Linked DNA regions of Homo sapiens. The protein of the gene in region 2 interacts with the protein of the main gene of each other region in a pairwise test. Each region holds a gene or a part of one and is shown on either strand. Other genes may lie near its edges.

Evidence for each region.
Region 1: the proteins of MON1A (region 2) and CCZ1 interact in binary tests that used the Homo sapiens proteins (3 or more experiments, as listed by UniProt).

What each region holds. Positions count from the first base shown.
Region 1 is NC_000007.14:5,915,695-5,922,738, forward strand, and holds part of CCZ1 (vacuolar fusion protein CCZ1 homolog), read left to right. Parts: intron 1-3,172; coding exon 3,173-3,206; intron 3,207-4,154; coding exon 4,155-4,272; intron 4,273-7,044. UniProt on the Homo sapiens protein: Acts in concert with MON1A, as a guanine exchange factor (GEF) for RAB7, promotes the exchange of GDP to GTP, converting it from an inactive GDP-bound form into an active GTP-bound form.
Region 2 is NC_000003.12:49,919,787-49,926,830, reverse strand, and holds part of MON1A (vacuolar fusion protein MON1 homolog A), read left to right. Parts: intron 1-7,044. UniProt on the Homo sapiens protein: Plays an important role in membrane trafficking through the secretory apparatus. Not involved in endocytic trafficking to lysosomes.

The sequences.
Region 1 (7,044 bases), on a different chromosome or scaffold from region 2:
GTAAGAGTTCTCTAGAAGTACTACAGGACTCAGAAAAGGCTTTCTACAGCAGTACCCCCGAGCCAAAGGCCATGTGTTCCAAAACCCCCGGGAGGTGCCTGAAACCGGGGACAGTACCAAACCCTTCACTTGCTGTGTTTTTTCCTGTACATACATGCCTGTGATAATGTTTATAAATTCAGTACAGTAAGCGATTAATAAGGCTGGGCGCAGTGGCTCACACCTGTAATCCCAGCACTTTGGGAGGCCGAGGCAGGCAGATCACTTGAGGCCAGGAACTTGAGACCAGCCTGGCCAGTGTGGTGAAACCCTGCCTCTACTATAGATAGAAAAATTAGCCAGGCATGGTGGCATGCACATGTAATCCAAGTTACTCAGGAGGCTGAGTCAGGAGAATCTCTTGAACTTGGGAGGCGGAGGTTGCAGTGAGCCAAGATCGTGCCACTGCACTCCAGCCTGGACAAGAGTGAGACCCCATCTCAAAACAAGTAATAGTAATCATAATTGGACGATGACACTCTACTGCAATAAAAGTCATGTGAATGCGGTTTGCTTCCCCCTTCCCTCAATATTTTATTATACTGTCCCTCACATAACAGAAACCATGGGAAACAAAACCAGGGGGAAGGAAGAATGGCGGCACTCACAGCTGCGGTTTATTACAGTGGAAGAATACAGGTTAAAATCAGCCCGGGGAAGAGGCGTGTGGGGCAGGGCGCAGGAGCCACCAATGGAAGGACCAGGAGTCCTTCTATTTGCTTTAGGTTGGTTTGGGTTGGTTTGGTTTTTTGGGTTTTTGTTTTGTTTTTTGTTTTTTTTTTTTTTGGTTTTTTGGTTTTTGAGATGGAGTCCCACTCTGGTGTGAGCTTCCGGCTGTCCTCTCCCGTTGGGGTCATGTGGACAGCCCAGTGAGTGTTTCCCCATCGAGGATGTGTGGCTGTCTCTATGGAGTGTTGACATCCAGGGAAGCTCACCTGAGCCTCGAGATCCAGAGATTTGATTGGGGGTTGGCCACAGAGACACAGCTGGCCCCACATGGCCAGCCTTAGTCTCCAGCCCTCCAGAGGTGGAGCGGGTGCTGTGCGGGCTTGGGTGTAAGGGATATTGGCCTGTAGTTTTGTTTTCTTGTGATATCTTTGGGCAATGCTGGCTTGATAAAATGTGTTGGGAAATGTTCCCTCCTATTTTTTTGGAAGACAGTGAAAAATTGGTGTTAATTCCTCTTTACATGTTTCATAGAATTCACAGTCAAGCTCTCTGCACCTGGGCTTTTCTTTGTGGCAAATTTTAAAGTTAACCATTTATGCCCAGTGTTCCATTATTGGAACACTAAGCTTGTGAGAGTTATTTATATCCTGCTGAAGGTCATTGCCAAGGTCTCATTTTTCACAAAAAAGATTTACAACCTCCAGCATAAATGGGTTAATCTCTGTACTTGTTACAGGTTTATTTTGATTTTGTTTCTTCTTGAGTCAGCTTTGGTAGTTTGTGTCTTTCTAGGAATTTGTCAGCTTCAATTAATTTATTTGATTTGTCGGCACGTGGTTTTTCATGGTATTGTAGGTAAAGCCGGATACTCCTTCGTTTTTCCTGTAAAGTCAGTAGTGATGTCTCCTCTTTCATTCCTGGTTTTAGTAATTTGAGTCTTCTCTCTTTGTTCCTTGTTGTATAGTCTAGCTAAAGGTTCTTCATACTTCTGGAATCTTCACAAGAAAAAGGAAAAGTTTTTCAATGTTGGGTCTTTTCAGAGAACAACTTTTGGTTTCATTTATTATCTCTGTGATTTTTCTCTGTTGAGTTTGTTTCTGCTCTCATGCTTTATTATTTCCTTCCATTTGCTTTAGGTTTGTTTGGGTTTTTTTGTTTTTGTTTTTGTTTTTTTTGAGACGGAGTCCTGCTCTGTCACCCAGGCTGGAGTGCAGTGGCACAGTCTCAGCTCACTGCAACCTCTGCCTCCCAGGTTCACATGATTCTCTTGCCGCAGCCTCCTGAGTAGCTGGGATTATAGGCGCACCACCACGCCCGGCTAATTTTTTTGTACTTTTAGTAGAGATGGGGTTTTGCCATGTTAGCCAGGCTGGTCTCAAACTCCTGACCTCAGGTGATCCGCCCACCTCGGCCTCCCAAAGTGCTGGGCTTACAGGTATGAGCCACCACACCCGGCCCCACTTGCTTTAGGTTTAGTTGACTCCTGTTGTCCAGGATCTTAAGACGAAAGGTCAGGTCACTGATTTGAGATCTTTCTTCTCTTGAGACAGGATTTCGCTCTCGGAAGTGGGAAGAGGTACTGGGGCAGGTGGGAATGTGAGTTCAGGAGCGGAGGCTGTGGCTGGTGGAAGGCGGCCAGCGGAGGAAATAGAATGCTATAAACCATAGAGGAGGAGGGGGAAGGCAGACGAGGGGTCACACCTGTCATGACATGAGCAGGAAGTCAGTACGATGCCCAAAGAGGATACGTTGAAGAGTTAGGATAACGCTGTTGTCTAATGACAGTGTAAAGTGGTTGCCGGGGAGGAGGGTCAGAGAACGAAATCTGTGGCTTTCATCATCAGGCCTGGTGTTCTGCTCAGCCTCTCTTAACCATACATTGCTTTGATAACTTTTAAACATTTTTGGTTATCTGTGGTCCTGGTTGTTGTCGGTTGCTAGGTCTAATGTCATAACTGTAATTACTTGCTATAATAAAGTGAGACAGGATGATATCCATTTGCTGTCTTTGTAAACGTGTGTCAATGGAAATCGTCACAGAATAATGGACAGTTTCTGCCAATTCTCTATTCTCTCTGGACTATACACAGAGAGACTAGAACAGTGAACCCCTAAGTCCCCATCACACAAGTGAATAAGATTCTGGTCTTCGTTGCTTCTCCATGTTGTGTTGTCGGGTTTGCAAGAGCATTTTAAGTCATCACGTCAGTCACGAACACTTCCCTGTGCCTCTCTGATGAGGACATCCGTGGTAACCTCCCCACTGGCGCTGTCACACCTGACAAGGTCAACAGCACTCCCCTCGCATCATGGAATGGGCAGTCTGTGTCCAGATGGCTCTAGTTGACCAAAAAGCAGCTTCTTACAGTTGACTTCTCCCCATTGACTTTGAACAGATTGTTATTATACGAAAGTCTCCTTTTTTCCACCATTTCATAACCTCTGGTTTGTTCTGTCTTCCCAGGCCATGAGTGCGGCTGTGTGCTTTATGATCGACGGTGGGTACGCGCCTTTGTCTGATTTCAGCCTAAGCTTTTTGTACTTTGCTGCATCCTATTCTTAAGTGATAAATATGTTTTGGGGGTTTCGGTTGTTTGGGCTTTTTTTGTTGGAGACGGGGTTTCACTCTTGGAGTGCAGTGGCATGATCATAGCTCACTGTAGCCTCGACCTCCTGGGTTCAAGTGATCTTCCCACCTTGGCCTCCTAAGTCGCTGGGACTGCCAGTACACACCGCCGGACCCAGCTAATGTTTTTGTGGTTGTTTGTTTAGACAGGGTCTCACTATGTTGCCCGGGCTAGTGTCAAACTCCTGGGCTCAAGCGATCCACCCATCTTAGCCTCCCAAAGTGCTGGGATTTCGGGCGTGAGCCCCCACACCCAGCCCATTAAATGATAAATGTGTTGTCATAAGCAATATAGAGGCATAGAGAGGAGCCCTGTTCCCCATCTGGGACCCCCCTGTCTCCTTAACTAGCCAGTGCTCATATTTTTTAAGTCCTAGTTTTCCCGCTAGTCAGCAGTAGAGTGTGGGCATCTTTCTGTGTCCCACCGACTGCGAGCTGGAGACAGCAGTGGTACCTCTCTCGGGGGGGTTCTGAGGATCGAATGAGGTCATGTCTGTGAAGCACCTGGCCCATGAGTGCTACGTAATGTTTGTTAAATAAACATACGACCTTCTGAGGTCTTTCTGGGGTAGGCAACCGTTTACCACCCTACAGGGTGTGCCTCGGTCAGCTTTTCACGGTGAGATAGGTCTTCGCCCTTTTTTCATCTGAAATGTAACCGGTTTTCTATCTTCTGTTTCTCTTCTATTTGAGGAGCAGAAGGGGGCCTGAGCATTCATTGTTTGTTTTCCCAGACCAGTGAAGTTTTCGTTTGAATACTGTTGTTCAGCGTCGCACAGTAAAATGAATCTTACTGGTATTTTTTGTCATGACTTGCCAGCCTCTGTCCACCCAACGTTGGATTTTTGCCGAAGACTGGACAGCATCGTTGGGCCCCAGCTCACAGTGCTGGCCTCTGACATCTGTGAACAGTTTAACATCAACAAGAGGATGTCCGGGTTTGTACTTTGCTTTCGGTTCACTTTCAGGCATTGAACGGCTTTTGAAATACACGTAGTTTTCACTTACAAATACGGGTGGTATTAACAGTCCTGTGTTCTCGTGGACTGTAGAGGATGGTGCTACGTGCCATTCAGGCCTCTGTCTGAAAGGGTCCCGGGGACAGTCACCCTGAGTGTTTCTGCCCCACGCTGGCAGCTGGGGCTGGGCCTTCTGGTAAATACCTTCCCTCAGCTCCCCCCGAATGGAACGTCCCATTTCACCAGCCCAGATTGTTACGTTCACTTGGACAGTAGTCATCGGCGTGGTCTTGGTGTGCACAGACTGAAAGCATTTTGCCTCTCGTTGTGTGAAAATGTGTAGGGGAAACTGGCTGGGATGTGGGGCACTGGGCCTGGGTACTCAGTCTGGCAGCCTGAAGTGTCTACACTGAGTGGGAGAGGCGGGATTCACTCCTCCGGCTCTCTAGACACTGAAATGTCCTTGAATTCTTTCTCCCTGGCTTTTTTTTTTTTTTTTTGAGACAAATTCCCACTCTGTCGCCCAGGCTGGAGTGTGCAGTGGCTTGATCTTGGCTCACTGCAGCCTCCGCCTCCCAGGCTCAAGCGATTCTCATGCCTCATCCTCTTGAGTAGCTGGGATTACAGGCGTGCACCACCATGCCCGGCTCCTTTTTGTATTTTTAGTAGAGACGGGGTTTCACCATGTTGGCCAGATTGGTCTTGAACTCCTGACCTCAAGTGATCCACCTGCCTCAGCCTCCCAAAGTGCTGGGATTACAGGTGTGAGCTACCGCACCCGGCCATGCTTATCTTTTCTCAATATAAAATAGTTATTATAAAGTGAAAGTGAGGCGATGGAAAGCACTTTGCGAAGTTGAAGTCCTGCTTTTAAATGGGCTCTCTACACATTTGAGAAGTTACTAAAAGGCTGTGAATTTCTGCATACGCTCATGGTCTTAATGTTCATACGTTGTTTTTTGGGTTTTTTTTTTTTTTTTTTTTAAGACAGAGTCTCAGTTGCCCAGGCTGGAGTGTGCAATGGTCTGTTCTCAGCTCACTGCAACCTCCGCCTCCCAGGTTCAAGCGATTCTCCTGCCTCAGCCTCCTGAGTAGCTGGGTGCCATCATGCCTGGCTAATTTTTGTAGAGACTGGGTTTTACCATGTTGGTCAGACTGGTCTCGAACTCCTGACCTCGTGATCCACCCACTTCGGCCTCCCAAAGTGCTGGGATGACAGGCGTGAGCCACCGCGCCCGGCCCATATGTTATTTCTGCATGGTCTTGTATAACCGTGGGCCTCTAAGAGCGCAGAAGCGAGCAAAGGTGAAAGCACCTCTAGGTTTTGTACAACAGTGTGTGGATTACTGCTGTCAACAGCTTACATCTTTGTTGCTTTTTGTTTTTATTTTTTGAGACAGAGTTTCACTCTTTCACCCAGGCTGGAGTGCAGTGGCATGATCTCAGCTCACTGCAACCTCCAGCCCCTGAGTTCATTCAAGCAATTCTCCTGCCTCAGCCTCCCGAGTAGCTGGGACTCCAGGCGTGTGCCACCACACTCAGCTAATAATTTTTGTATTTTTAGTAGAGACAGGGTTTTGCCATGTTGGCCAGGCTGGTCTTGAACTCCTGACCTCAGGTGATCCACCCACCTCGGCCTTCCAAAGTGCTAGCATTACAGGCATGAGCCACCATGCCCAGCCAACAGCTTATATCTTGACAGTGCTGCTGAATCATTGAATCCTTTGGCCGTGAAAATACCAGGTTTTCCTTTGTGAAGGAGGCAAAAGTGAGTTAAATCGGTTTGGATCATGCAGGTTATCAACTAACAGATGGAAAGTGACAAAGTGTAGTGACCATAGAGAACGTGTCACCTGTTTTGTTTTTTTGTGGGTTTGTTTTTGGAGACAGGGTCTCCTGCTGTCGCCCAGGCTGGAGTGCAGTGGTGCAATCATGGCTCACTGCAGCCTTGACCTCCCAGGCTGTAAGTGATCCTCCTACCTCAGCCTCCCCGGGAGCTAGGACTACAGGTGTGTGCCACCACGCCTGGCTAATTTTTGTATTTTTGGTAGAGGCGGGGTTTCGCCATGTGGCCTAGGCTGATCTCGAACTCCTGACCTCAAGTGATTTGCCTGCCTCAGCCTCCCAAAGTGCTGGGATTATAGGCGTGAGCCACTGCTCCTGGCCTCACAGAGTGTTTTGAGGATAGAAGCTTACACCCGATTTAAGTTCCTTGTCTACCCAGACAACTAAATTTACAACTCTTTCCAAACAGTTTTTCTTGTCATTATACTTTCCTTAACCTTAGGGAACTATGAAAACAAATTCTGGTTTTATAAGAAGTTTCTTTACATGTTCCTGGAAACTCAATCCTCCACGTTCTTTCTTTGCCTGGACGTAGAGTATTTCATGAGTACCCCATTGGTCCGGAGGTCGGATTTCTGGTACCCCCAGCCCTCCAGAACGTGGCTGCTAACCCTGAAGCAAGCAGAGGAGGCCTCTGAGCCCAGGGGCGGGGCTGTGCTCAGGCCCCATCCAGGCCCCAGGGTGGACACTGAGGGTGCAGGGAGGGGAGGGGAGGGGCCCCAGGAGCAGTGAGGCCCAGCTTTTCCCACTAGGTCCCCGAGGAGGTCACAGACTCTGACCTGGGAGGCAGCGTCGTAGCACTGCCTAGTCAGTTTAAGAAATAAAAAGGTACATCCCATTTAAAATGTTCATCAGACTGCAGTGGAAAAGGCGACTGCGTTTTACAGTGATGTCCACTGGGGATGA
Region 2 (7,044 bases):
CTCCAGCCTGGGCGACAGAATGAGACTCCATCTCAAAAAAAAAAAAAATCTCCCTCCCAAAGATGTCTGTTGGCTGGATGTGGTGGCTCACACCTGTAATCCCAGCACTTTGGGAGCCCTAGGAGGGAGGATCTTCAGTTCAGGAGTTTGAGAACAGCCTGGACAACATACTGAGACCCCATCTCTACAAAAATAAAAATTAAAAAATTAGCCAGGCGTGGTGGCACGTGCCTGTAGTCTCAGGTACTCAGGAGGCTGAGGTGGAAGGATCATTTGAGCCTGAGAGGCCAGGGCTACAGTTAGCTGTGATTGCATCACTGCACTCCAGCCTGGGTGACAGAGTGAGATTCTGTCTCAAAAAAAATAGAACTCCTCCCGCATGTGGCTTAAAGCCATACTGAAATTTGTGGTAGGTCACAGGGTAACCTTCAATCCAGAGAAATAAAGCAGGGCAAGAGGGGTAAGGAGCAGGGATATTGATAAGGTAATGCTTGAGCAGCAACCTGAAGGGAGTGAGGGACTGAGTCACATAGATAACTAGCCCAGGCAATGGAGTAGGTGAAGTGGGGTGCAGGGGGAAAGTTCAGCAACGGCAAAGTTCTAAAGTTAAAGAGTGCCCAGGAGGCTTAAGGAAAGCCAGGAGGCCACTATGGCTGGGCTGAATCACAGTTAGTGGGGAAAAAGGATAAGAGATGAGGTCAAAGAAGTAATGGGGAAGGAGTTATGTTGAGTGGGGCCTTGTGCACCACTGTGAGGAAATTGGCTTTCTCACTGAGTAAGGTGGGACCATTACAGAGTTGTGAGCAGAGGAACTGCATGACCTGAGTTCTGTATCAAGAGAATCACTTTGCTGTAAGAAGCACAGATTATGCAGGGACAAGGGCAAAAGAGGGGAGACTAGATAGGAGATTACTGCAACAATCTCCTAGAGAGACACTGGTGGCTTTGACCACAGTGGTAGCTGTGGAGGTGACAAGTGGTCAGATTCTGGATATAGGCATTTCCCACTTAACATCAGTAATCTGTTTCATGAAAATTGGACATTCTGTGTGAAATCTTCAACTTAATATATTTTCCATTGATTGATTGATTGAGACAGGGTCTTGCTGTGTTGCCCAGGCTGGAGTACAGTGGCACAATCACGGCTCACTGCAGCCTTGACCTCCTGTACTCAAGCGATCCTCCCACCTCAGCCTCTTAAGTAGGTGGGACTACAGGCATGAGCTGCCCCACCCAGCTGATTTTTTATTTTGTAGAGACAGGGTCTCACTATGTCAGCCAGGCTGGCACTCAGTAATTTTCTATCAGTTCTATTTGGAATATAATTTGAAGCTTTAAATGCACATTACTTTGTTAAAAATATAGATAAGATTTTAATGATGTAAATATACATATTTTCTGTATAAACATACACTGGGCCAGGTGTGGTGGCTCACACCTGTAATCCCAGTACTTTGAGAGGCTGAGGCAGGCAGATCACTTGAGTCAAGGAGTTTGAGAGCAGCTTGGGCAACATAAGGAGACCCTGTCTCTACAAAAAATTAAAAAATTAGCCAGGCATGGTGGCACATGCCTGTGGTCCCAGCTACTTGGGAGGCTGAGGTGGGAGGATCACTTGGGCCTGGGAGGTTGAGGCTACAGTGAACCATGATCACACTATTGCACTTCGGCCTGGGTGGCAGAGTGAGACCCTGTCTCAATAGATAAATAAATAAACATAAGCTGAATCAACATAAGTTTGGTATATTAGTTAACTATTGCTGTGTAACAAATTATGCCAAAACTTAGCAGCTTAAAACAACAATATTTATTATCTCATACAGTTCTTGTGGGTCAAGAATTTGGGAGTGGCTTAGCTGGATGGCTCAAGCTCAGGGTCTCTTATTACGTTGAAGTCATCTGAAGGTTTGACTGGGCCTAGATGATCTGCTTCCGAGATGACTCACTCATGACTAGCAAGTTGGTACTGGCTGTTCACAGGAGGTCTCAGTCCCTTGCCATGAAGTTCTCTCCATAGAGCTGCTTACATGTCCTTACAACATGGCTGATGGCTTTCCCTAGAGGGAATGATCCAAGAGAACAAGGCAGAAGCCACAATGTCTTTTATGACCTAGCCTCAGAAGTCACACATTGTTTTTTCATTTTTTTTTGAGACAGGGTCTGCTCTGGCACCCAAGCTGGAGTGCAGCAGTGCGATCTCAGCTCACTGCAACCTCTGCCTCCCCCCGGGTTCAAGTGATTCTCATACCTTAGCCTCCCAAGCAGTTGGGATTACAGGCGCCCGTCATGACACCTAGGTAATTTTTGTATTTTTAGTAGAGATGGGGTTTCACCATGTTGTCCAGGCTGGTCTCAAACTCCTGACCTCAAGTGATCAGCCCATCCTGGCCTCCCAAAGTGCTGGGATTACAGGCATAAGCCACTGTCCCCAGCCACACATTGTTATTTACACAGTGTCCTATTGGTTGCATAGGTCAGCCCTGCTCAGTGTGGAAAGGGAGTATGCAAAGTCGCATAGCAGGAGTTGAGGATTACTAGAGACCATCTTGAAGGCTGACAACCAAGCTGGATATTAAAAACAAAAAGGCATTCTATGGTGAAAATGTTAACTAGAGACATTTTGCTGGATGTGCCTGTATTCTGAAATAGAGCTAACAGGATTTGCTGATGGTTTGGTATATGAGGTGTGGGGAAAAAAAGAGAGGCGTAAGGGATGACTCCAAGGTTTTTTGTTTTTTTTTTTTCCTATGAGACAGAGTCTCGCTCTGCCACCCAGCCTGGAGTACAACGACACGATTTTGGCTCACTGCAACCTCTGCCTCTCCAGTTCAAGCAATTCTCCTGTCTCAGCTTCCTGAGTAGCTGGAACTACAGGCACGTGCCACCATGCCCGGCTAATTTTTTGTATTTTTAGTAGAGACAGGGTTTCACCGTGTTAGCCAGCAAGGTCTCGATCTCCTGACCTCATGATCTGCCTGCGTCGGCCTCCCAAAGTGCTGGGATTACAGGTGTGAGAAACCGTGCCCGGCCGACTCCAAGGTTTTTCACCAAACAACTGAAAGAATGAGATTGTCTTTCTTGGCCAGGTGAGGTGGCTCACACCTGTAATCCCAGCACTTTGGGAGGCCAAGGTGGGCAGATCACAAGGTCAGGGGTTTGAGACTAGCCTGGCCAACATGGTGAAACCCTGTCTCTACTAAAAATACAAAAATTAGCCAATGTGGTGGCACACGCCTGTAGTCCCAGCTACTCGGGAGGCTGAGGCATGAGAATCGCTTGAACCTGGGAGGTGGAGCTGAGATTGCGCTGTTGCACTCCAGCCTAGGCAACAGAGCAAGACTGTCTCAAAAAAAAAAAAAAAAGAGCTTGTCTTTCTTTCGTTCTTCCCTTCCTTTCTTTCTTTCTTTCCTTCCTTTCTTCCTTTCCTTCCTTTCCCTCCTTCCCCTCCTTCCCCTTCCTTCCTTCCTCCCTTCCCTCCCTCCCTCCCTCCCTTCCTTCCCTCCCAGAGTCTCGCTGTGTCACCCAGGGTGGAGTGCGGTGGCGCGATCTCAACCTCCACCTCCCGGGTTCAAGGGATTCTCCTGCCTCAGCCTCCCGGGGTAGCTGGAATTACAGGCATGCGCCACCACACCCGGCTAATTTTTTGTATTTTTCATAGAGATGGGGTTTCACCGTGTTAGCCAGCATGGTCTCGATCGCCTGACCTCATGATCTGCCTGCCTCGGCCTCCCAAAGTGCTGGGATTACAAAGTGTGAGAAACCGTGCCCGGCTGACTCCACGGTTTTTCACCAAACAACTGAAAGGATGAGATTGTCTTTCTTGGCCAGGTGTGGTGGCTCACACCTGTAATCCCAGCACTTTGGGAGGCCAAGGCAGGCGGATCACCAGGTCAGGGGTTTGAGACCAGCCTGGCTAACATGGTGAAACCCTGTCTCTACTAAAAATACAAAAATTAGCCTGTGTGGTGGCACACGCCTGTAGTCCCAGCTACTTAGGAGGCTGAGGCACGAGAATTGCCTGAACCCAGGAGGTGGAGCTGAGATCGCACTGTTGCGGTGAGCTGAGATCGCGCCATTGCACTCCAGCCTGGGCAACAGAGCAAGACTGTCTCAAAAAAAAAAAAAAGAAATTGTCTTTTTTTCTTTCGTTCTTTCCTTCTTTCCTGGCTTCTTTCCTTTCTTCTTTTCCTTCCTTTCTTCCTTTCCTTCCTTTCCCTCCTTCCCCTTCCTTGCTTCCTTCCTTCTTTCCTTCCTTCCCTCCTTCCTTCCCTCCTTCTTTCCCTCCCTCCCTCCCTCCCTCCTTCCTTCTCTCCCTCCCTCCTTCCCTCCTTCCTTCCTTCCTTCCTCCCTTTACAGAGTCTCGCTCTGTCACCCAGGGTGGAGTGTGGTGGCACGATCTCAACCTCCGCCTCCTGGGTTCAAGCTGGAGTGCGGTGGTGCGATCTCAACTCTGCCTCCCAGGTTCAAGCGATTCTCCTGCCTCAGCCTCCCGGGGTAGCTGGGATTACAGGCATATGCCACCACACCTGGCTAATTTTTTTATTTTTAATAGAGACGGGGTTTCACTGTGTTAGCCAGGATGGTTTCGATCTCCTGACCTTGTGATCTGCCCACCTCGGCCTCCCAAAGTGCTGGGATTATAGGCGTGAGCCACTGCTCCCGGCCGTCTTTCTTTCTTTCTTTTTTTTTTTTTGAGACAGAGCTTTGCTCTTATTGCCCAGGCTGGAGTGCAATGGCGTGATCGTGGCTCACTGCAACCTCTGCCTCATGGGTTCAAGTGATTCTCCTGCCTCAGCCTCCCAAGTAGCTGGGATTACAGGCATGCACCACCACACTTGGCTAATTTTGTATTTTTAGTAGAGATGGGGTTTCACCATGTTGGCCAGGCTGGTCTTGAACTCCTGACTTCAGGTGATCCACCCACCTCGGCCTCCCAAAGTGCTGGGATTACAGGCATGAGCCACTATGCCCAGCCATGAAATTGTCTTTTACTGAGATGGTGAAAACTCTGGGAGAAGTGGTAAGTGCCTGTAGTCCCTGCTACTCGGGAGGCTGAGGCAGGAAGTTCACTTGAGCCCAGGAATTTGAGGCTGTAGTGCATGGTGGGGTGGTGATTACACCTGTGAATAGCCACTGCACTCCAGACTTGGTGACAGAGCAAGACCCCATCTCTTAAAAAAAAAAAAAAAAAAGTGCTACCACGCCCGGCTAATTTTTTGTATTTTTGGTAGAGATGGGTTTCCCGTGTTAGCCAGAGTGGTCTCGATATCCTGACCTGGTGATCCGCCCACCTCAGCCTCCCAAAGTGCTGGGATTACAGGCGTGAGCCACTGCACCCGGCCTTTTTTTCTTTTTAAAGACAGGTTCTCTACCAGCCAGGCGTGGTGGCTCAGGCCTGTAATCCCAGCACTTTGGGAGGCTGAGGCAGGCGGATCATGAGGTCAGGAGGTTGAGACCATCTTGGCTAACACGGTGAAACCTCGTCTCTACTAAAAAATACAAAAAATTAGCCGGGTGTGGTGGCAGGCGTCTGTAGTCCCAGCTACTCGTGAGGCTGAGACAAGAGAATGGCATGAACCCAGGAGGTGGAGCTTGCAGTGAGCTGAGATCGCGCCACTGCACTCCAGTCCAGGCGACAGAGCGAGACTCCATCTCAAAAAAAGAAAAAAAAAAGGAGACAGGGTCTCACTCTTATTGCCGAGGCTGGAGTGCAGTGGCACGATCTTGGCTCATTGCAAGCTCTACCTCCCGGGTTCCTGTGATCCTCCCACCTTAGCCTCCTGAGTAACTGGGACCACAGACACGTGCCACCACGCCTGGCTAATTTTTGTATTTTTGTAGAGGCAGGGTTTGCCATATTGCCCAGGCTGGTCTTGAACTCCTGGGCTCAAGTAATCTGCTTGCTTTGGCCTCCCAAAGTGCTAGGATTACAGGTGTAAGCCACCATACCCAGCTAGGAGCAACTTTTTAAGGAGATGACCTTTTTTTTTTTTGATGCAGAATCTGGCTCTGCTACCCAGGCTAGAGTGCAGTGGCACGATCTTGGCTCACTGCAACCTCCGCCTCCCACATTCAAACAATTCTCCTGCCTCAGCCTCCTGAGTAGCTGGGATTACAGGCGTGTGCCACCACACCCAGCTAATTTTCATATTTTTAGTAAAGATGGGGTTTCACCAGGTTAGCCAGGCTGGTCTCAAACTTCTGACCTCGTGATCCACCCTCCTCGGCCTCCCAAAGTGCTGGGATTACAGGTGAGAGCCACCACGCCTGGCCAGGAGATGGCCTTTTTAAGGAGTTCAGTTTGAGGCATATAACCTTGAGATAACATGAAGTAGACAGTTAAATGTGTGTGCCTCTTTAAGTCAGAAAAGATATTGGGGCTGGAGATTAAAAAAAAGTATTAATATGTAGAGGGAATTTAAAACTATGAGACCAAATGAGATCACCAAGGGATTGAGTGAAGACAGAGAAGAGGTCCAAAGACTGAATTCTGTGCCCCTTTACAGTAAGAACTGCAAAAAGGACTCAGAAGGAGTAGTCCATGAGGTCAGAAGAGAGCCAAGAAAGGAGTGGTATGCCATAAAAGAGGAGAAAATGTTTCAAGAGAGAGGAAATAACCAAATTATCTATTGTTTATGGGTGAAGTAAGATGATCCTGGAGGTCGTTGGTGACCTTGATGGGAGCAGTGTTGATGGAGTAATGGAGGTGAGATTCTGTTCAGAACTGGTTTAGAGAGAATGGGAGAAATGGAGAGGCTACGGCAGAGACAATTCCTGCTTTCCAGATATCCGTGAGCTCCATATATTTCCCAGTCCCTCTGGCCACATCACTGGTTCTGGCCAATGTGAGCTACGAAGTATTTAAGAGCTGGTACATGATCCTCCATCTCTGTCTTCCCTTGCCAGGTGATGTGGAAGGCATGTGTTCCGAATGGCTTCTATAGGGTGCTAGTGGCTTGGATTCCTGAATCACTGCTTGGAAGGGAGCTACTCTGAATTGCTACCAGTCCCACAGTAGATTTTATGTGAGCAAAAAATAGGTCT